6 linked regions of the Homo sapiens genome follow. The protein of the gene in region 1 purifies or fractionates together with the protein of each later gene. This does not show direct contact. Each region holds a gene or a part of one and is shown in the gene's direction. Other genes may lie near its edges. The genes, in order: DEUP1, MAFF, ANXA13, DGKH, KNSTRN and HIP1.

Region 1 (3,500 bases):
CTGACCAACATGGTGAAATGCTGTCTCTACTAAAAATACAAAAAATTATCCGGGTGTAGTGGCACGTGACTGTAATCCCAGCTACTCAGGAGGCTGAGACAGGAGGATCACTTGAACCTGGGAGGTAGAGGTTGCAGTGAGCCAAGATCGTGCCACTGCACTCCAGCCTGAGCAACAGAGCGAGACTCCATCTCAAAAAAAAGAAAAAAGAAAAAAAAGAAACCACCCCCGTGCCCACCAGCCACCCCCCAACACACACACACACTCGGGATCACAATTCAATGTGAGATTTGGATGGGGACACAGAGCCAAACCATATCCCCCAGCATAGTCAGATTCTGGTGAGGGCCCTTCTCCTGGTTCACAGATAGCTGTCTGCTCTTTGTATCCTCAGATGGCAGGGAGAAAGAAAGAGAGAGGAAACAAAATCTCTCATAGCTCTTCTTATAAGAGCACTCATCCCATTCATGAGAGCTTCACTCTCATGACTTAATTACCTCCCAAAGGCCCCATTTCATAATGCTGTCACTTTGGGGTTTAGGCTTGACATATGTATTTGTTGTGGGGGACACAAACATTCAGTCCTTAATAGTCACTAAATAAGTCCAAGCCCCACCCTCTAAAAAAACAAGAGGAGAAATTTGGCAACTGAGTGAATGAAGGAAAAAATATTTCGTGTCAAGAAATAGAAAGAAAGTAGTGGCAAATGCAAAAAAAAAAAAAAGTTGTTTGAAATTCCCTTATTAGTAATAAGTATTTGTTATAAGACAGACTTTTTACATTTTTAACAATAAGTGACAAATTCTGTATTTTCCTAGCAAAAATTAGAGATGGTAAAAAATCCAACATGAATGATTTGACACCTTTTCTTTTGTTTGTTTTCCCTAATAGGTAAAGAATGGATTTACGGCCGGGCGCGGTGGCTCACGCCTGTAATCCCAGCACTTTGGGAGGCCGAGGCGGGCGGATCACGAGGTCAGGAGATCGAGACCATCCTGGCTAACACGGTGAAACCCCGTCTCTACTAAAAATACAAAAAATTAGCCGGGCGAGGTGGCGGGCGCCTGTAGTCCCAGCTTCTCGGGAGGCTGAGGCAGGAGAATGGCGTGAACCCCAGGGGGCGGAGCCTGCAGTGAGCCGAGATTGCGCCACTGCACTCCAGCCTGGGCGACGGCGAGACTCCGTCTCAAAAAAAAAAAAAAAAAAAAAAAAAAGAATGGATTTACTTTTTTTTTCTCAGAATGAAGATGTACAAATGAAAGAAGCCTTATTTGCTGTACTTTAAAATGAATAACATTTTTAAATATGTTTGTCTCCCCACTTTTTAAAAGGAATTTAGAGCAAAGTCAAGAGAATGGGACAAGCAAGAGATATTATATCAGACTCATCTGATTTCTTTAGATGCTCAACAAAAATTATTATCTGAGAAGTGTAATCAGTTTCAGGTAAGTTATCTAATACTATTCTCTAAATCAAAAGCAGAAGTTAAATATTGGTATCTTTACCATTCACCAGTAATCTATTTACAAACAGACATGCCAACTAAGAAAAAACGAGAGTAGGTCCAAAGGTGGGTACAGTCACAAGTGCATAGAATATCTGTTAATGGTGAGTTTAGTCTACATGTCTCAAAGGATGGAGCTATTTAAAATTCCATTGTTATTGTGTCATTAAATAGCATATGTTTTTGCATGCCTACAGGCAAGGCACTCAAAGAATTTACGATTGCTTGCTTTACTTTGTATTTCCCTGGCTACTTGTAAGACTGAACATCTCCTCATATACTTTTTAGCCTATCTCAGGTCTTTCTGTGAATTGCCTATTCATAAACTTTGCCCATTTTTCTTTTGCATTGTTTGCCCTTTTCTTATTGATGTGTAGAAGTGTTTGTACACTAGGAATTATTAACTCTGTTACATGCATTGACAACTTTTCCCCTACAATCAAATTGTTTGTTTTTATTTATTTTTGGTTATAGACTTTTTTCAACCATTGTATAATTGAATTTTTTACACCTTCTAGATTTTTTTTCTTGCTTAGTATGGCTTTACTACCACTAACCTCCTTCTCTACTCTACATCTTTGCTCTGAGGTTATACAAATATATTTTCTCTATATGCCATCTGAAATTGAAATTTTAAAACAAATATAAGACTGAATTACAAAGACCCAACTTTCATTATGTAGTAACATATTTAAAGATATTCCTACTAATTCTTTTCTATCATTCTTGAACTTCATGTAAGCTTAAATATGACATTCTTCATTTGAGTTACACAGTTTTTATATTTTTCAGAAACAGGCACAAAGTTACCAAACTCAACTAAATGGTAAAAAACAGTGCTTAGAAGACAGCAGCTCTGAAATTCCTCGTTTGATATGTGACCCAGATCCCAATTGTGAAATCAATGAAAGAGATGAGTTCATTATTGAAAAACTGAAATCAGCTGTAAATGAGATAGCACTAAGCAGGAATAAATTACAAGATGAAAATCAGAAGCTCTTGCAAGAACTGAAAATGTACCAAAGACAGTGCCAGGTGAAGATTAATTTTTTTTCAACTAATATTGTCCATGACTTGTATAAATGGTAACACATATAGAGATTAGAATGATTAGAATGGTAGTTTTCTATTATTAATATATGTGAAGATTCCATTCATATTTCCTCTTAGTAATTCGCACTTGATGCGTAGATTCAATAATCCCATAAGTATGTTACCACACTTAGAGTGCACTTTGGTTCTGCGGTGGCATAATAATAATGTATTACCAGTGCAATATAATAGTGGTCACTTACGGACCTCTATGCCTTTAGCCATGTACTACCCTCTTCCCCCACTATTTTCTCTTACCCTGTGTTTCTTTGACTCAGAAGAATCCTGGGTTAAAGATACAGGAAATCGTGAAGGGTTCAACAATTTAGTAACCTCAGTGAGAGCTATGGAGATGACTCCAGTGATTTATCACTGGTAATCTTATCATAATCATTTATCAAACAGTAACCTAGAATTTATTTTTAGGTAACTTTCACATTGACAAATATGATTGATGGTTTAACAAGCATTAATTTTTTTTCTTAACTGAATAATGTTTTTTTCTTTTTTGTCTATTTCTTGCAACCTTTAGGAAGGTTATACAGCATTCATCAAAATTGGTCATTACCAATTTCTTTACAAAATATGTATTTCTTTTTTTTTTTTTTTGAGACGGAGTCTCGCTCTGTCGCCCAGGCTGGAGTGCAGTGGCGGGATCTCGGCTCACTGCAAGCTCCGCCTCCTGGGTTCACGCCATTCTCCTGCCTCAGCCTCCCAAGTAGCTGGGACTACAGGCGCCCGCCACTACGCCCGGCTAATTTTTTGTATTTTTAGTAGAGACGGGGTTTCACCGTTTTAGCCGGGATGGTCTCGATCTCCTGACCTCGTGATCCGCCCGCCTCGGCCTCCCAAAGTGCTGGGATTACAGGCGTGAGCCACCGCGCCCGGCCCAAAATATGTATTT
Region 2 (3,500 bases), on another chromosome or scaffold:
AGAGGAGGAAGAATTAGAGACAGGGCCAGGAGGTACTGAACTACGTTTCGGCTTGGAACCCGGCTTGGTGACAAGCTGGGTGATGGCGTCAGAGACTCTGACCATCCACCCTTCCCCAGTGCCTGCTCCCTGCCAGGTCTTGAGATGGGTGGCCTCAAGCACCCAGAGCTGACTCAGCCTCTCCCTGTCTGGTGGAGAGACAGCAAGGAAATACAACCCATTACACACAGGGGTGGGGGTCCCTAACAAGTCCTAGGGATCAGGGAGGGCTTCCTGGAGGAGGAGATGTCTGCACCCAGGGCCGAAGGATGAGTAGGAGTCTGCCAAACAAAGTAGAGGGGAGTGAGGGGAGAGAAATATCATGGGGTGGGAGGTGGCTCAGAGGCAAGAAAGCGCGGGTGGGAGGAAGTGAAAGAAATTCTGTGTGGCTGGAGCACAGAGTGGAGGTGGCAGTGGTGGGAAATGGGCGTGGGGCTGGACACACAGGGCCTGGGGTGCTGGGAGGGTGGGTCTGGACTCCATCCTTAGGATAGTAGGGAACCATGGAAGGTTTTTTTTTTGTTTGCTTGTTTGTTTTTGTGTTTGTTTTTGAGATGGAGTATCACTCTGTCGCCCAGGCTGGAGTGCAGTGTCGCGATCTCGGCTCACTGCATGCTTCACCTCCCGGGTTCACGCCATTCTCCTGCCTCAGCCTCCTGATAGCTGGGACTACAGGTGCCTGCCACCACACCCGGCTAATTTTTTGTATTTTTTAGTAGAGACGGGGTTTCACCATGTTAGCCAGGATGGTCTCAATCTCCTTACCTTGTGATCCGCCCGCCTCAGCCTCCTAAAGTGCTGGGATTATAGGCATGAGCCACCTTGCCCAGCCGAACCATGGAAGGCTTTAATCTGGCTGGTGGCATGGTCAGATTCGCGTGGTGCAAAGATTGTCCAGCTGCTGTGTGGGAATGAGCTGAGACCAGCAGGGAGGTGTGCTGGGACCTCCCCAGGTGTGTGTAGGGTGGTGAGGGTGACCACTTAAGAGGCCTGCATTGGGTTGGGCGTGGTGGCTCACACCTGTAATCCCGGCACTTCAGGAGGCCGAGGCAGGTGGATCACCTGAGGTTAGGAGTTCGAGACCAGCCTGACCAATATGGTGAAACTCTGTCTCTACTAAAAATACAAAAATTAGCTGGGCGTGGTGGTAGGCGCCTGTAGTCCCAGCTATTCAGGAGGCTGAGGCAGAGCTAATCGCTTGAACCCAGGAGGCGGAGGTTGCAGTGAGCTGAGATCCTGTCACTGCACTCCAGCCTGGGCGACAGAGCGAGACTCCATCTCAAAAAAAAAAAAAAAAAAAAAAGGGAAAAAAAAAAGGCCTGCATTGAAAGGTAGGATCGGTGAGGTTGACATGTAAACGTCTCCAGATAGTATCTGAAAGGTCAGGGTAGCCAGCAGATCTCATATGACTTTTCCAGGTAGGATGGGAGTGCACAGAGGCCCCCAAGGAGAGCTAGGTGGGCAGCCAGGGCCTGAGCCCCCTAGGATTTGGAGTGCTAGGCAGGGAAACTGAGGCCAGAGCCCAGGCTAAGCCGGCATGTTCAGCAGTGGGGGGTCGCAGCTCAGGGGTCACCCCATGAAGCCACTGGTCTTCACCGTGGATCCGCACAGGGGTCTAAAGCTGCCTGGGTCCTGACCTGGCACTCTGGGTCCACCCAGCTACCCCCAGCGAAACCTGGGTGACCCCTAAGACTCTCCTGCTTAAGGGCCACAGTGGCTGCCCCTGTCAGGGGATCTCTGCAAGCGCCAACTTCCTTCTGTCCCACTCCTTCCTTCCCTGTGAGCTGCCAGACCCCCTGACTGTGTGGGCTGGGAGGAGCTGGGGAGTTTCCTGAGAAGCCCTGGACTGTCCCCACCTTGGCCTGAGTCACACTGAGAACTCAGCAAGGATTCCTTGAGTATCTGCGAGGTGCCAGGCGCGGTTCTAGGCATGGGGGAGGCCGCGGTGAATCAGGTATAAGTTCTGCCCTCATGGAGCTGGCATTCTAATCGGGGGGTTGGGAGGGACAGACACTGAACAAATAACCACCATATATGTGAGTGATGACAATTACACATGGGGAAACCTGAGGTGGGGAAGGGACACAGGGAGTGTGTGTGTGTGTGTGTGTGTGTGTGTGTGTGTGTGTCCGTGTGTGTATCAGGGGTTGCAAATTCTAAACTGAGTGAACATGAGATTTGAAGAGACCTCAGGAGGTGATGGAGCAAACTTTGTGGATATCTAGGGAACAAGGATGCCAACAGAGGCCATGCGTCGTGGCTCATGCCTATAATCCCAACACTTTGGGAGGCGGAGGCAGGCGGATCGCTTGAGCCAAGGAGTTCAAGACCAGCCTGGGCAACATGATGAAACTCTGTCTGTACAAAAAGTACAAAAATTGGCCAGGTGTGGTGGCATGCACCTATAGTTCCAGCTACTAGGGAGGCTGAGGTAGGAGGACCACTTGAGCCTGGGAGTTTGAGGCTGCAATGAGCTGTGATCGTGTCACTGCACTCCAGCCTGTAACGGAGTGAGTGAGACCCTGTATAAAAAACAAAAACAAAAACAAAAACGCCAGCAGAGGGACCAGCCAGTGCAAAGGCCCTGGAGAGGAGCGTGCATCCTGTGTTGAGGAAGGGCGGGTGTGGCTGAGGCAGGGGAAACAAAAGGAAGCCAAGTAGGGCTGAGGTTGGAGAAGGGATGCTGGGGAGCACTTTCTTTTTTTTTTTTTTTTCAGACGGAGTCTCACTCTCGCCCAGGCTGGAGTGCAGTGGCACAATCTTGGCTCACTGCAACCTCCGCCTCCCGGGTTCAAGCGATTCTTTTGTCTCAGCCTCCCAAGTAGCTGGGACTACAGGCACGTGCCACCACGCCCGGCTAATTTTCGTATTTTTAGTAGAGACGGGGTTTCACCATGTTGGCCAGGCTGGTCTCGATCTCCTGACCTCATGATCCACCCGCCTTGGCCTCCCAAAGTGCTGGGATTACAGGCGTGAGCCACCGCGCCCGGCCACTGGGGATCACTTTCTGCAGCACTTTGTGGGCCATGGTGACAACTCTGGCTTTACTCCAGTGAGCCGTGGGAAGGTCCTGAGAGAGGTGTGACATGAGCTGACTTAACACAGCTACCTGTGTCACCCAGGGGGAAAGTGAGGCACAGAAAGAGTGGCTGACCTATCAGAACCACACAACTAGAGAGCGAGACCACCCCCAAAAGGCCCCAGGTGTGTCTGGCACCAAGGTCCATGTGCTTTCCATTTCTGCACCTTGTCCCTGGGAGACACCCCGGTCCTGCCAGAATGTGTCAGAGGCTGAGCCAACCCGTGAGGTCAACCCTGTAGACAGCTCAAGGAACCAGGACTTGGATCTGGCTTTTGCCCTCTGCTGTCCACAAAACTGGGTGATGCTCTTTCCGATACGGTACGTGTTTATAGGATGCTACAGCTCAGATCACAAAGCATCTTCCTTTGTTTTCTTTTTA
Region 3 (2,550 bases), on another chromosome or scaffold:
GAATAGAGACCACGCTTCATTAAGCTGTAGATAGATCAAAGCTGGAAGGCAAGGGGAAGCCAGGAAAGAGCAAATAGCAGCATCGTAGGAAAGTGATCTTTAAAAAGGATCAAACATTTCATCAAGTCCACATCCCGGATTGCAAACCAAAAGATCGTGGGGAACCTGGAAAAGGTTCAGAGATGAGGCTTGCAAAACAACCCCAGTGAGGAAAAACAAAGAGTAGGGAGGTTGTTGAGCATAGGAGAGCAGGCGGCTGTCCAACTGGATACATTGTCAAGATGATGAAGTTTTGTTCCAGAAGGTTGCTGGCCAATCTGTTTCCCTTCAGAACCCTAGGACAGCACCAGAGATTTCACTCGATAGGGAAAGTTATTTCTGCTGGGAAATAACGAGAATCATGGACGTGGCCGGGAGGGCCCGAGGATGCCACAGCTCTCCTCTAGAGGGTCTTCAGGGGACAGGAGGGGAGCTATGCTTGAAGATTCCAGGTGCTCTGACCAGGGAATCTTCCAAATCTCATTTCGCAACGGTGTCAAGTCAGCTCTTTTCACACCTCTGTCTCACCATCCAGTCAGCTCGAAGGGCAGCCAGGTGACATTTAGGGGGGTCCCAAGGTCATTCCACAAAACGTGAAAGCCTCACATTCTCTTTTCCTTTGTCCTGCCCAGTGAGATGTGCCCAGGATTGTGAGGACTATTTTGCTGAACGTCTGTACAAGTCGATGAAGGGTGCGGGGACCGATGAGGAGACGTTGATTCGCATAGTCGTGACCAGGGCCGAGGTAAGACACACTCCGACTCCAAAGAGGCGGCTGCAACTTCTCTTTTTTCCACCACTGATGTCATCAACAAATAGTTTCTATTAAGGGCCTATTTACAGAAAAAGTAAAACAGAGACGGCCCCTTGCCTTCCCAGAATTTGCAGAAGACATTGTGCTCTGCTTCAATCTGTTTCTTTTTATAAAAATACAATAATGATCGTTGCTTCTTTTTTTGTCCTCTGTGGCTCTGGAGAGCTAGTGGAGGGGCGCAGAGGCAACCATGTCGAGCAGTTCTCAGGGGCTGCAGCTATGCATGGCTCCATGTTAAGGAAGACAAAACAAACACACTTGAAAGAGGTCAACCAGCAGCAGGAACAAAAAGAGAATGATTTCTGAATTCCTGAGTGAGGCCTTTCCTTAACTGAACACACTGCAGAAGCAAGCACATCAGCATAAGGCAATGGTTCTCAATCTTTTTAAAAACTATTGCTGTTCTAAGGAACCTTTTTAGACACGTGTTTCTTCATTGCCATCCCTTCCCCACAAGAAATGTTAACACCAGAGATAATACTACAAATCTGTTTATATACCATGTGGATATCAGTGCTTTATACATAAAAAAATTAAGGGCTTTTTCACCCCCTAAAAACCAATTTGTGCTTGCTCTCGGAGAATGTGTATGTATAAGAAAGAAAAGGGAGAGGAAGAGCCAACGGCTTGGGAGCAGCCGTCAAGATCACAGCTGGTCGGGTGCAATGGCTCATGCCTGTAATCCCAGCACTTTGGGAGGCCGAGGTGGGTGGATCGCCTGAGGTCAGGAGTTCGAGACCGGCCTGGCCAACATGGTGAAACCCCGTCACTACTAAAAATACAAAAATTAGCTGGGCATGGTGGCACACACTTGTAGTCCCAGCTACTCAGGAGGCTGAGGCATGAGAATTGCTTGAACCCAGAAGGTGGAGGTTGCAGTGAGCCAAGATGGTGCCACTACACTCCAGTCTGAGTAACAGAGCGAGACTCGGTCTCAAAAAAAAAAAAAAAAAAAAGGTCACAGCTAACAGTTCGGGATATGGGGCCACAGACAGAAGGTGGTACAAAATAAAGGGGAAGTGGCATTTCATCGGCAGCAGGAGAAGCCTTGGGGAATGAAGTGGAACTAAGCACTTGAAAACCACAGACATCTTCCCTCAAAAAAAAAAAAAAAAAGTGGTTAAATGAAGGGGGAGGTGAAGGGGGAGGGACACCAACCCAAATTCTGATCCATGGCTTCTTAACAAATAATGCTTAACATCTGACACTGTTTTTAAATATAACTTTGCAACAAGATGGTTCTTGCTTTTTTATTTCTATTCCTGGAATTTCTCCTCCCCTCCTTTCTCCTCCTCCACAACTCATCTTTTTCTATTGAAGGCCATGTCTCTCTCTCTCCCCTCTTTCCCTTTGCCAGTCTCTCTGCTCTGCTCCTGCCATGCCTCTGCCTCTCTCCTCCATGGCTCCAAATCCCTCTCCCTCCTTTCTCTCCAGGTCTTCTGCCTTGTCCGTCCCTCTGTCTGTTAGCAACTCGACCTCCAGCCAAAGTCACTGAGAGATGAGAGATCTTGAGGGACTCAAAAGGGACAGGTTGAACACAATGAAGACCCAGGATTCCAAATGACCCCCAGAGAGACTGGATCCATCCGAAGGGCTTGTGAGGGTTCCGTGATCACTCCGACATGGCCCACGGAGTGTTTTATTCCAAGAAGCTCTGTCCCATCTCAGAATCAACCACACGTCCTGGGCCATCTCAA
Region 4 (3,500 bases), on another chromosome or scaffold:
TAAGTGAGATGGTTAGGATCAACTTTCTCTTACCCAGTCTGCTTTCAAAAAGATGCTTAAAATAAGTACATAGAGGACCACAATGCAGGTGAAAGTACATAAAAGGCCTGAAAATGATTCAAGAAAAGGACTCCCTGGTTTTGGAGGAAAGAGGTAAAGCATTTCTTTAAAAATCAGTTTTTTGTAATAACTTCTGCTATAGTTATTTATACTTCAAACTTTTTTTAATTAAAAAAAATAAGATAAATGATTTGGTAACGTGTAGAGAGCAGACATTACGAACACACTGTGCTCCATTGTCCTTCATCTTTAGTGTTTTAGTATCTTCCATACTAGTGGTTCTGCTCTTTTTATCTAATCTCTACTTTTTTTTTTTTTTTTTACCTTACAGTGTGATGGGCAGTATATTCCTCTTCCCAGCTTGCAAGGCATAGCCGTGTTGAACATTCCCAGCTATGCTGGAGGCACTAACTTTTGGGGTGGAACTAAAGAGGATGATGTAAGTAATGGGAGTAAATAGTTTGTTTCCTCAAAAATAATTATATCACTGGAATAATTTGCTTTTGTAAATGGGCTGTTGAATAGTAGTTTAATTTCATGTTAAATATTTTGCATTGGGTAAGTGAGGCATGGAATAGATTTATTTAAGATTTTATTGTAACAGTCTCTTGTGGATGTACTCCAACTTTTCTCATGTTGAAGATACAGATATTCGTATCTTGGGATGTATGTCACAATTTTCTGGATGAACATTAAATAGTGGGTCTGCTTTTGGAAAGTAGATTTATGAAATAAGGAAGGGAAGATTTTACTTTTTAATTTTATACCTGCATCTGTTTTCTATCGCTGCTATAACAAGTTAACACAAATTTAGCCACCTCAAACACATTTATCATCTTACTGTTGTATATGATGGGAGACTGGCACAGTCTTACTGGGCTAAAATCAAGGTGTCAGCTGGGCTGTTGCCTTCCGGAGGCTCTAAGGGAGACTCTTATTTCCCTGTCTTTGGAGCGTCTCGAGGCTGCCCACATTCCCCTCCATCTTCAAAGCCAGCAAAGGCAGGTTGAATCCTTCTCACATGGCATCTCTCTGATGTCTGCTGCTTCCTCTTCCACTTTTGATGACCACTGTGATTACATTGGGCCCACCTAGATCACCCAGGATCATCCCCATCTCAAGGCCCTTTATTTAATCACATCTGCAAAGTTCCTTTTGCTGTGTAAGGTAACAGATTCACGGGTTTGGGGGATTAGGACATGGACATTTTAGGGGGCAGAGAGGGGGCATTATTCTGCCTACCACAATACCTTTTGGTACTTTTACTTTTTCTTTCTTTCTTTCTTTCTTTCTTTCTTTCTTTCTTTCTTTCTTTCTTTTTCTTTCTTTCTTTCCTTCTTTCCTTCTTTCCTTCCTTCTTTCTTTCTTTCTTTCTTTCTTTCTTTCTTTCTTTCTTTCTTTCTTTCTCTTTCTCTCTCCTTCCTTCCTTCCTTCCTTCCTTCCTTCCTTCCTTCCTTCCTTCCTTCCTTCCTTCCTTCCTTCCTTCCTTCTTTCTTTTTTGAGACAGAATCTTACTCTGTCGCTCAGACTGGAGTGCAATGGCGTAATCTCAGCTCGCTACAACCTCTGCCTCTCAGGTTCAAGCAGTTCCCCTGCCTCAGCCTCCTGGGTAGCTGGGACTACAGGCACACACCACCACACCTGGCTAATTTTTGCATTTTTAGTAGAGACGGGGGTTTCACCATGTTGGCCAGGGTGGTCTCGAACTTCTGACCTCAGGTGATCCACCCACCTCGGCCTCCCAAAGTCCTAGGATTACAGGGATGAGCCACTGCATCCAGCCTCAGTACTTTTAATTTTCTAAACTTGTGTGTGTATATATTTTTTATTTTCAGAAATATCAAGAGGGCTCATTTGGCCGGTCGAGTTTAGGGCTATTTTTGTTTTTCTTTTCATACTTTTCTATATTAGAAAAAGAAGAAAACACAACCTTACAAATGTAATTGTTGTGAAAAGAATGAAAGAGAGGGCACAATTATTAAAGTGTGTATATATATATATATATATATCAGTAAAAATGAGAAGTGTTATCACAGTCTTTATTTGAAGAGTCACATCCATTGATTTGAGTTTATGATATAATGATATAATGGTTCCTACTGATCTGTTATTCTCAAAGATCTTAAATGGACAGATAGGGATACAGTATAAGATCAATTGGAAAGTATTTGTAATTTTCATGACATAAATATATTCCAGTCCTATTCGAGTATAAAAGCATCTTTTGTCTGCTTGTCACTATTAAGTATTTTGAAGGGGAGAAATCAGTGAGATTAAGGTAAATAAAGCCAACATTCCTTGAACACCTGCTAGGTAGTCCGACAATGTTCTAAGAGCTTCACATTCATTATTTAATGTCCACGTTGTTTATTTGATTTTTACTGCTGAAGAATCTAAGACAAAGTTTCCAGTTAGTAATAGCAGAGACAGGGTTTAAATTCAGGCAGTATAATAAAAAAATTACAAATTACAATGTTAGCAACTTTGTGTCCTGATATTTTCAGTGAAAGTTTTAATTAGCTTATTACTTTATACTGAAAATTGTTTCAGATGCATATTATTTATGATATAGTAAAAGAGAGAGTAAGGTAATACAGCCTACATATAAAATTTTAGAGTAAATTAATTTTGTGAAAATGCATCTAATGTAAAGACAAAATAAGTCTGCATAATTTTTATCTTCTGAGGTTTCTATTTGCATACTCTCAAGTTCCCTCAAAAGTTTTGTATTAAAATATAAAGCACATATGTATATTGCTTGTAAAACCTTGAAAGATTTCCCTTAGAATATATCAAGTAAACTGGATCATAATTTGCATCTTCATTAGCTTTAACTTTATGAAACTATATCACCTTTCTATGACACTATATCGCCTTTGTAGTTTTTTTTAGATTTCCAAAACTTACATGTATCATCTTATTAACATGTTTGAATTAGGTATGAACATGTATTTAACATGTTTTATTCCAAGGTGAATTATTTAGAAATATATTAGTTAACTGGTCCAAAGAGTAGTTTAATGAGAGGTATGAGTAGTATATCCGTGTATATTTGAAAACCCTTTTTAAAGTTAGGTTTATTGGAAGTCATCTTCAGAGATTTTTTTCTTGGATTATTATTTCCTAATAATATTTACTTAAATATATTATTAAATATATTAAATATATGTAGATATATATTGCAGTTTACATTGCTTAACGTGCTCTTCACCTAAACATTCAGTAGAAGTGTAATGTAGTTTTTCTTTCAGATATTTGCTGCACCATCCTTTGATGACAAGATCCTGGAAGTTGTAGCAATATTTGATAGCATGCAAATGGCAGTTTCAAGGGTCATTAAACTGCAGCATCATCGAATAGCCCAGGTTGGTTTCTCTCGTCAAACCTGACTGCACTTCTTGGGCTAAGGAGGGTTGAAGGAATCTATTCTAAACAACTCG
Region 5 (3,500 bases), on another chromosome or scaffold:
AATGAGATGGTACAAGGATTCAGGCATGTTTTACCTGCTAACTTCCACCCTGCTCTCTGCTGGTGTCCATCTCCATGTTCACTTTTACAGCCTACACCTTTCAGTTCAATGAAACTTTTGGCTACCCTCAAACATGCTGTACTGTCACGTTTAAATAATTTTGGTTTTTATTGCCAATTAGCCTGGAAGTTTTATTCTTTTGAATTAATCTTCACATGTTGAAATTTGCCAGAATGAAAATAAAGATTTGGCCAGGCATCGTGGCTCACGCCAGAGTGGCCAAGGCAGGAGGATTGCTTGAGCCCAGGAGTTCGAGACCAGGCTGGGCAACATAGTGAGACCCTGTCTCTATTTTTAAAATTTTAAAACATATTTGAGGTGCCTATAGTCCAGCTACTCGGGAGGCTGAGGCAGGAGAATCGTTTGAACCCAAGAGGTGGAGGTTGCAGTGAGCCAAGATCACACCACTGTACTCCAGCCTGGGCCACAGAGCAAGACTCTGTCTCAAAAAAATAAATAATACTTTTTAAAATAAAGTAAAATAAAGATTTATGACAACTTCGAATGGGGCTCTGTTTGTTACAGGGTTGCAACTGTCGGGTCATGATGCCAGAAGCTTTACCTCTCATTTTCCTTTGCAGACACACAAACTCGGGCCACTTCTAAGAGTCTCTTACCTGTTAGGTCCAAAGAAGTCGATGTTTCCAAACAGCTTCATTCAGGAGGTCCAGAGAATGATGTTACAAAAATCACCAAACTGAGACGAGAGAATGGGTGAGAACGGATCATTAGTATCCAGTTAGAACATCTTCCTAGAAATTGCTCAATACAAAGAATTAGAAAACAGAGTTTTGGACAACACAAGTCTCCTGAACAACTGGCCTTCAATCAGTGGCCCAGAGCAGTGCAGCATTGCTGAGCTCTGTGCCAGAACCCTCTGTGTTGATCTTTCTGAAGAGACACAGCCAGAGTTATAAGAGGTGTTCTTTCCTCTTTCATCGCTTGCTCTGAGCATACAAGTGGCAGCACTGTAGTCATACAGCAACCCTGAGGGGTAGTCATGCAGGGTGGGGACTAGTTGTTATCCTAGGTTGCTGCTCTGACCACACAGTCCAGCCCTAGTGTGTGTGTATGTCCCCAGCCAGCAGTCAGTTCCAGGTGAGTGAGGTTGACATGAGATAGCCACGCCATCTTGAGAGGAACAGCTCTGTCAGGTTGTTAGGGTGGTCGGAGGCATGCCCCTTTGCTACTAAAAAGCCTTTTCAATAATCTGTGCCGAAGCAGTAATGCATAGTCTCTCAGAGCTCTTAAGCTTGTGCCATTTGCCTTTTATGTCTGGTTCTTTCCTCAGAAACTCAAGCTCTTTGTTCTGCCTGTTCACAGCACACTTAACAGTACTGTAAGTCTCTGATTCATTTCTTTGTTTCTGCCCTCCTAGGCAAATGAAAGCTACTGACACTGCCACCAGAAGGAATGTCAGAAAAGGGTGAGCATCAGGGTAAATCAACTTGGCCACTATTCTAGGGTAGTGGATCTCAATCCTTGGTTCTGCATCAGAATCATTTGTGGGACTTGTTTACTGTGTTAGGGTCTGGGTTCCACCTCAGGAACCTGAGTGGAATTTTCAGGGGTGAGGCACAGCTAGGTGTAAGAACCATTGTCAGTGCAAGAATCACTGGTGCTACTATCTTGTGTCTCAAGCAAGAGCTTTTTGGACTCCACGCCAGGACCACTGCTGATTGGAAATCACACTTAGCTATGGCCCATCAACAGGAGGGTAAAGCCTTCAGGAGAGGAAGGGCTGGGTGTATGTAGTTAGTGATCTCGAGATGAAGATTCTGGTGGTGGTGGTGGTGAAAACCTGGAGAAGGATTCATGTCTCATCTTTGAGGCTAGTTTGGAAGTTTTGCACTATCAGAAATAGAAATAATAAGCTGAAAAGTCTGTACAAATAGGTTTTAGTTCCAGATCTATTATTTGGGCATATCTTAAAAGTTTTGAAGACAGCAGGGCACACCAGCTCACACCTGTAATCGCAACACTTTGGGAGGCCAAGGTGGGTGGATCACCTGAGGTCAGGAGTTCGAGTCTAGCCTGGGAAACATGATGGGACCCCATCTCTACTAAAAATACAAAAATTAGCCAGGCATGGTGGCGCATGTCTGTAATCCCAGCTACTCAGGAGGCTGAGGCAGGAGGATCACTTCATCCCGGGAGGCAGAGATTGCAGTGAGCCAAGATCACGTCATTGCATTCCAGCCTGGGTGACAGAGCAAGACTCTGACTTACAAAAATAAAAAAGTTTTGAAGACAAAATACTAGCAAAAAAGACTGAGAACTTTAAGAAAAAACTCTAATATTGGTTGCTGAGACCAGCTTGGTCGGGGAGACCCTAACCCAGCGGCGCTAGAGGAATTAAAGACACACACACAGAAATATAGAGGTGTGAAGTGGGAAATCAGGGGTCTCACAGCCTTCAGAGCTGAGAGCCCCGAACAGAGATTTGCCCACGTATTTATTAACAGCAAACCAGTCATTAGCATTGTTTCTATAGATAGTAAATTAACTAAAAGTATCCCTTATGGGAAATGGATGGGCTGAATTAAAGGAATAGGTTGGGCTAGTTAACTGCAGCAGGAACACGCTCTTAAGACACAGATTGCTCATGCTATTGTTTGTGGCTTAAGAATGCCTTTAAGGGCCGGCGCAGTGGCTCACGCCTGTAATCCCAGGATTTTGGGAGGCCGAGGCGGGTGGATCTCAAGGTCAGGAGACCATCCTGGTTAACTATGGTGTTTCACCGTCTCTACTAAAAATACAAAAAATTAGCCAGGCATGGTGGCGGGTGCCTGTAGTCCCAGCTACTCGGGAGGCTGGGGCAGGAGAATGGTGTGAACCCAGGAGGTGGAGCTTGCAGTGAGCCGAGACCACGCCACTGCACTCCAGCCTGGGCGACGGAGCGAGACTCCATCTCAAAAAAAAAAAAAAATGCCTTTAAGTGGTTTTCCGCCCTTGGCAGGCCAGGTGTTCCTAGCCCTCATTCCCGTAAACCCACAACCTTCCAGCATGGGCATTAGGGCCTTTATGAACATGTTACAGTGCTGCAGAGATTTTGTTTATGGCCAGTTTTGGGGCCAGTTTATGGCCAGATTTGGGGGGCCTGCTCCCAACAATTGGTGATATTAGAGTTTATTAGATGATAAACTAACATTAGATAATAGCCCAGCTACTGGGCTAAGAAATGCACACGTGTTTTCTCTCTTATTACTCATAATAATAATACTATGAGATGTGGGTATTGTCCTGATTTCAAAAATGAGGAAACAAGGCCTCAGGGAGGTTATGCAACTCACTGAAGGTCATATACCACTGTGTAATAGCCAGGATAGAATGGGACGTGTTTGTGTAACTCTGTAGGCCGTATTTTTCTTTCTTTTTTTTTTAGACGGAGTTTTGCTCTTGTTGCCACCCAGGCTGGAGTGCAATGGCGCAATCTCAGC
Region 6 (3,500 bases), on another chromosome or scaffold:
ACAAAGGCTTTCCAAGGATGAGGCTGGTGGAGAGTTTGAGGAAAGGAAAACACATGGGTGGCAGAGAGAGAGGGATGAGCGTTTTTTTTTGTTTGTTTGTTTTGTTTGTTTGTTTTTTGAGACGGCAGTAATCCCAGGACTTTGGGAGGCTGAGGGGGGTGTGGATCACCAAGTCAGGAGTTCGAGACCAGCCTGGCCAATATGGTGAAACCCCATCTCTACTAAAAATACAAAAGTTAGCCAGGTGTGATGGCGTGTGCCCGTAGTCCCAGCTGCTTGGGAGGCTGAGGCACAAGAATCTCTTGAACCTTGGAGGTGGAGGTTGCAGTGAGCTGAGACTGCACCACTGCACTCCAGCCTGGGCAACAACAGCGAGACTCCGTCTCAAAAATAAATAAATAAATAAATAAATAAATAAATAATAAAAAATCCTTCCTTGACATTCCACATTTTCAGTACACTCTGGGGTCTTGCCTCCTCCTCCCACACCCTGCACTTTTTTGGGGGGGTGTAACTTACATACAGTAGAGTTTACAGATCTCTTGTTGATCGCTTGGGACGTTTTTACATTTTTATATTCTTTGTCACTGTCACCCAGATCAGAGTCCCTCTGTTTTTCTTCTCTTTCAGACTCAAGAACAGCTGGAAGTTCTAGAGAGCTTGAAGCAGGAACTTGCCACAAGCCAACGGGAGCTTCAGGTTCTGCAAGGCAGCCTGGAAACTTCTGCCCAGGTAAATACCTCCTTTTTTTTTTTGGAGATAGAGTCTTCTTCTGTCACTCAGGTTGGAATGCAGTGGTGCGATCGCAGCTCACTGCAGCCTCCACCTCCCTGGGCTCAGGTGATCCTCCCCACTTAGCCCCCCGAGTAACTGGGACTACAGGCACACACCCCTACACCTGGCTAGTTTTTGTATTTTCTTTGGTAGAGACGGGGTTTCACTATGTTGCCCAGGCTGGTCTCGAACTCCAGGGCTCAAGTGATCCTCCCACCTCAGCCTCCTAAAGTGCTGGGATTACAGACATGAGCCTTCATGCCCGGCCTCCTTTCTTGCCCCACCCCTGGCTTTGGCGTTGCTGTCATCCACCATCCTTGGCCTGGCCAAGTCAGCCCCCACTGCAATCAGTGTGTCCCCGGGAGGGAATCAGAGTGGCAGGTTAAAGAGCCATCACCTTCCCAGTCCTTGCAACCCGGTGGTGGGTTGGACCTCTGGGAAGTAGGGACTGTTTAACTCAACCAGCGTCTCCCTCTTTCCTTGTGGTCACCTTTGCAGTCAGAAGCAAACTGGGCAGCCGAGTTCGCCGAGCTAGAGAAGGAGCGGGACAGCCTGGTGAGTGGCGCAGCTCATAGGGAGGAGGAATTATCTGCTCTTCGGAAAGAACTGCAGGACACTCAGCTCAAACTGGCCAGCACAGAGGCAAGTCACGGACATGGACACGAGCGAGCACCTGTGAATTCCCACCGAGGGCCTCTGCGCATGCACGGAGGCTGGGAGGACCCCGGGGCTGCTGAGAAGGGGTTTGGGGCCTTGGCCTGATTGTGCAGACATTCTGTAGGTGTAATGCCAGCAGGCCCTGCATTGCCTGCAGAGTCCATGAGGGAAAGCAAACTGCTGTCTTTTTTGTATGAGAAGAGAAGTTTGGCATCTCCTCCCAGCCATGAGAAGCGGGCGCAGTGATCCATCCCCACAGCCTCTGTGGGCAGCCGCACATCGTGGGCAGCCGCACATCCTGTGCACACAGTTAAAGCGCCTTTCTCTGTCTCAGGCTTACTGGCTTGGACCTCATTGGCCATGACTTGAGCTAAGATGCTAAGAGCCCCAGCCAGGTCATCCTGCTCAGGTTCATTATGGAGTCTAGGGCAGACTCTCACCTCCCTGGACCATTTTTAGGAATCTATGTGCCAGCTTGCCAAAGACCAACGAAAAATGCTTCTGGTGGGGTCCAGGAAGGCTGCGGAGCAGGTGATACAAGACGCCCTGAACCAGCTTGAAGAACCTCCTCTCATCAGCTGCGCTGGGTCTGCAGGTACACTTGCAATTGCCCAGCTGGCAGGGGCCAGGTCCTTACAGCCTGAGACTCTGTTGATGTTGAATCTCATGTGAGACTTAGCTCAGGGGCTCTCAGCCCAGCAGCATGTCAGCATTACCTTAGGGGCGCCCAGGCCCCATCCTAGATCAGTTACATGTGGAAACTCTGTGCATTAGTGCCTATACACTAGTATTTTAGTATTTTCTTCCCCCCCCCCGCCCCCCCGCTTTTTGAGATAGGGTCTTACTCTGTTGCTCAGGCTAGAGTGCAGTGCCGTGGCTCACTGCAACCTCCGCTTCCTGGGCTCACACAATCCTCCCCACTCATTCTCCCAAGTAGCTGGGACTACAGGCACGCAACACCACGCCCAGCTAATTTTTGGTTTCGGTTTGTTGCTCAGACTGGTCTTGAAGACCTGGGCTCAGGCTATCCACCCACCTTGGCCTCCCAAAGTGCTGGGATTACAGGCATGAGCCACCATGCCTGGCCTTGGCTAATTTTTTAATTTTTGGTAGAGACGAGGTCTCACTCTATTGCCCAGGATGGTCCCAAACTTCTGAACTCCCACCTTGGCCTCTCAAAGTGCTGGAATTACAGGCATGAGACACCACGCCAGGCCCAGCAGTAGTATTTTCTAAAGCCCCCAGGTGTGATAGCTACTGCTTTAGACAGTGGGTCACACTGATAAAACACCCACCAGGAGCAGACAATTCTGTTTCTCTAAGGAAAAAACTATGGTCTGAATCAAGAGGTGATTACTCATGAACTTCACGTCTAGGCAGGAAGCTTACCCACTAGGTAAGCTCCTCCATTCAGTGCTTAATTAACGAGGATGAAGCCAGCTATGAGAACTTGCTCTGACCTTGCCCTGTGTTCCCTCTCACAGATCACCTCCTCTCCACGGTCACATCCATTTCCAGCTGCATCGAGCAACTGGAGAAAAGCTGGAGCCAGTATCTGGCCTGCCCAGAAGGTAAGAATGGCCAAGGACAGTCTCTGTCGGCTAGTGATGGCCAGACAGGGTTCAGAAGCACCTGAATGCGGGGATAGTGACAGGTCCCTCTGCATCAAGAAAGGCATGTAGGCAACTCATACAAGAAAGGCATGTAGGCAACTCATAAAACGGGAGGAGAGGGTATGAAAGTGTCACCATCAACCAGACCTGAGAAACTTCTCTTTCCAATCCTGGCAGACATCAGTGGACTTCTCCATTCCATAACCCTGCTGGCCCACTTGACCAGCGACGCCATTGCTCATGGTGCCACCACCTGCCTCAGAGCCCCACCTGAGCCTGCCGACTGTGAGTACCGGGGCATGAGGGGCTGTTCATGGACCAGGGGAGCAGGGGGCCTTTAAAAGTCTCTGTTGGGCCGGGCGCAGTGGCTCATGCCTGTAACTCCAGCACTTTGGGAGGCTGAGGCGGGCAGATCACTTGAGGTCGGGAGTTCAAGAACAGCCTGGCCAACATGGC

The links.
Region 2: the proteins of DEUP1 (region 1) and MAFF purify together in Homo sapiens (affinity purification with mass spectrometry; 3 studies listed by BioGRID and IntAct, with this or other methods). This does not show direct contact.
Region 3: the proteins of DEUP1 (region 1) and ANXA13 purify together in Homo sapiens (affinity purification with mass spectrometry; 3 studies listed by BioGRID and IntAct, with this or other methods). This does not show direct contact.
Region 4: the proteins of DEUP1 (region 1) and DGKH purify together in Homo sapiens (affinity purification with mass spectrometry; 3 studies listed by BioGRID and IntAct, with this or other methods). This does not show direct contact.
Region 5: the proteins of DEUP1 (region 1) and KNSTRN purify together in Homo sapiens (affinity purification with mass spectrometry; 3 studies listed by BioGRID and IntAct, with this or other methods). This does not show direct contact.
Region 6: the proteins of DEUP1 (region 1) and HIP1 purify together in Homo sapiens (affinity purification with mass spectrometry; 3 studies listed by BioGRID and IntAct, with this or other methods). This does not show direct contact.

What each region holds. Positions count from the first base shown.
Region 1 is NC_000011.10:93,368,742-93,372,241, forward strand, and holds part of DEUP1 (deuterosome assembly protein 1), read left to right. Parts: intron 1-1,331; coding exon 1,332-1,445; intron 1,446-2,296; coding exon 2,297-2,539; intron 2,540-3,500. UniProt on the Homo sapiens protein: Key structural component of the deuterosome, a structure that promotes de novo centriole amplification in multiciliated cells.
Region 2 is NC_000022.11:38,208,494-38,211,993, forward strand, and holds part of MAFF (transcription factor MafF), read left to right. Parts: intron 1-3,500. UniProt on the Homo sapiens protein: Since they lack a putative transactivation domain, the small Mafs behave as transcriptional repressors when they dimerize among themselves.
Region 3 is NC_000008.11:123,682,844-123,685,393, reverse strand, and holds part of ANXA13 (annexin A13), read left to right. Parts: intron 1-671; coding exon 672-784; intron 785-2,550.
Region 4 is NC_000013.11:42,205,648-42,209,147, forward strand, and holds part of DGKH (diacylglycerol kinase eta), read left to right. Parts: intron 1-391; coding exon 392-499; intron 500-3,311; coding exon 3,312-3,425; intron 3,426-3,500.
Region 5 is NC_000015.10:40,385,721-40,389,220, forward strand, and holds part of KNSTRN (small kinetochore-associated protein), read left to right. Parts: intron 1-641; coding exon 642-774; intron 775-1,438; coding exon 1,439-1,486; intron 1,487-3,500. UniProt on the Homo sapiens protein: Essential component of the mitotic spindle required for faithful chromosome segregation and progression into anaphase.
Region 6 is NC_000007.14:75,553,942-75,557,441, reverse strand, and holds part of HIP1 (huntingtin-interacting protein 1), read left to right. Parts: intron 1-630; coding exon 631-732; intron 733-1,272; coding exon 1,273-1,416; intron 1,417-1,890; coding exon 1,891-2,026; intron 2,027-2,915; coding exon 2,916-3,002; intron 3,003-3,221; coding exon 3,222-3,329; intron 3,330-3,500. UniProt on the Homo sapiens protein: Plays a role in clathrin-mediated endocytosis and trafficking. Involved in regulating AMPA receptor trafficking in the central nervous system in an NMDA-dependent manner. Regulates presynaptic nerve terminal activity.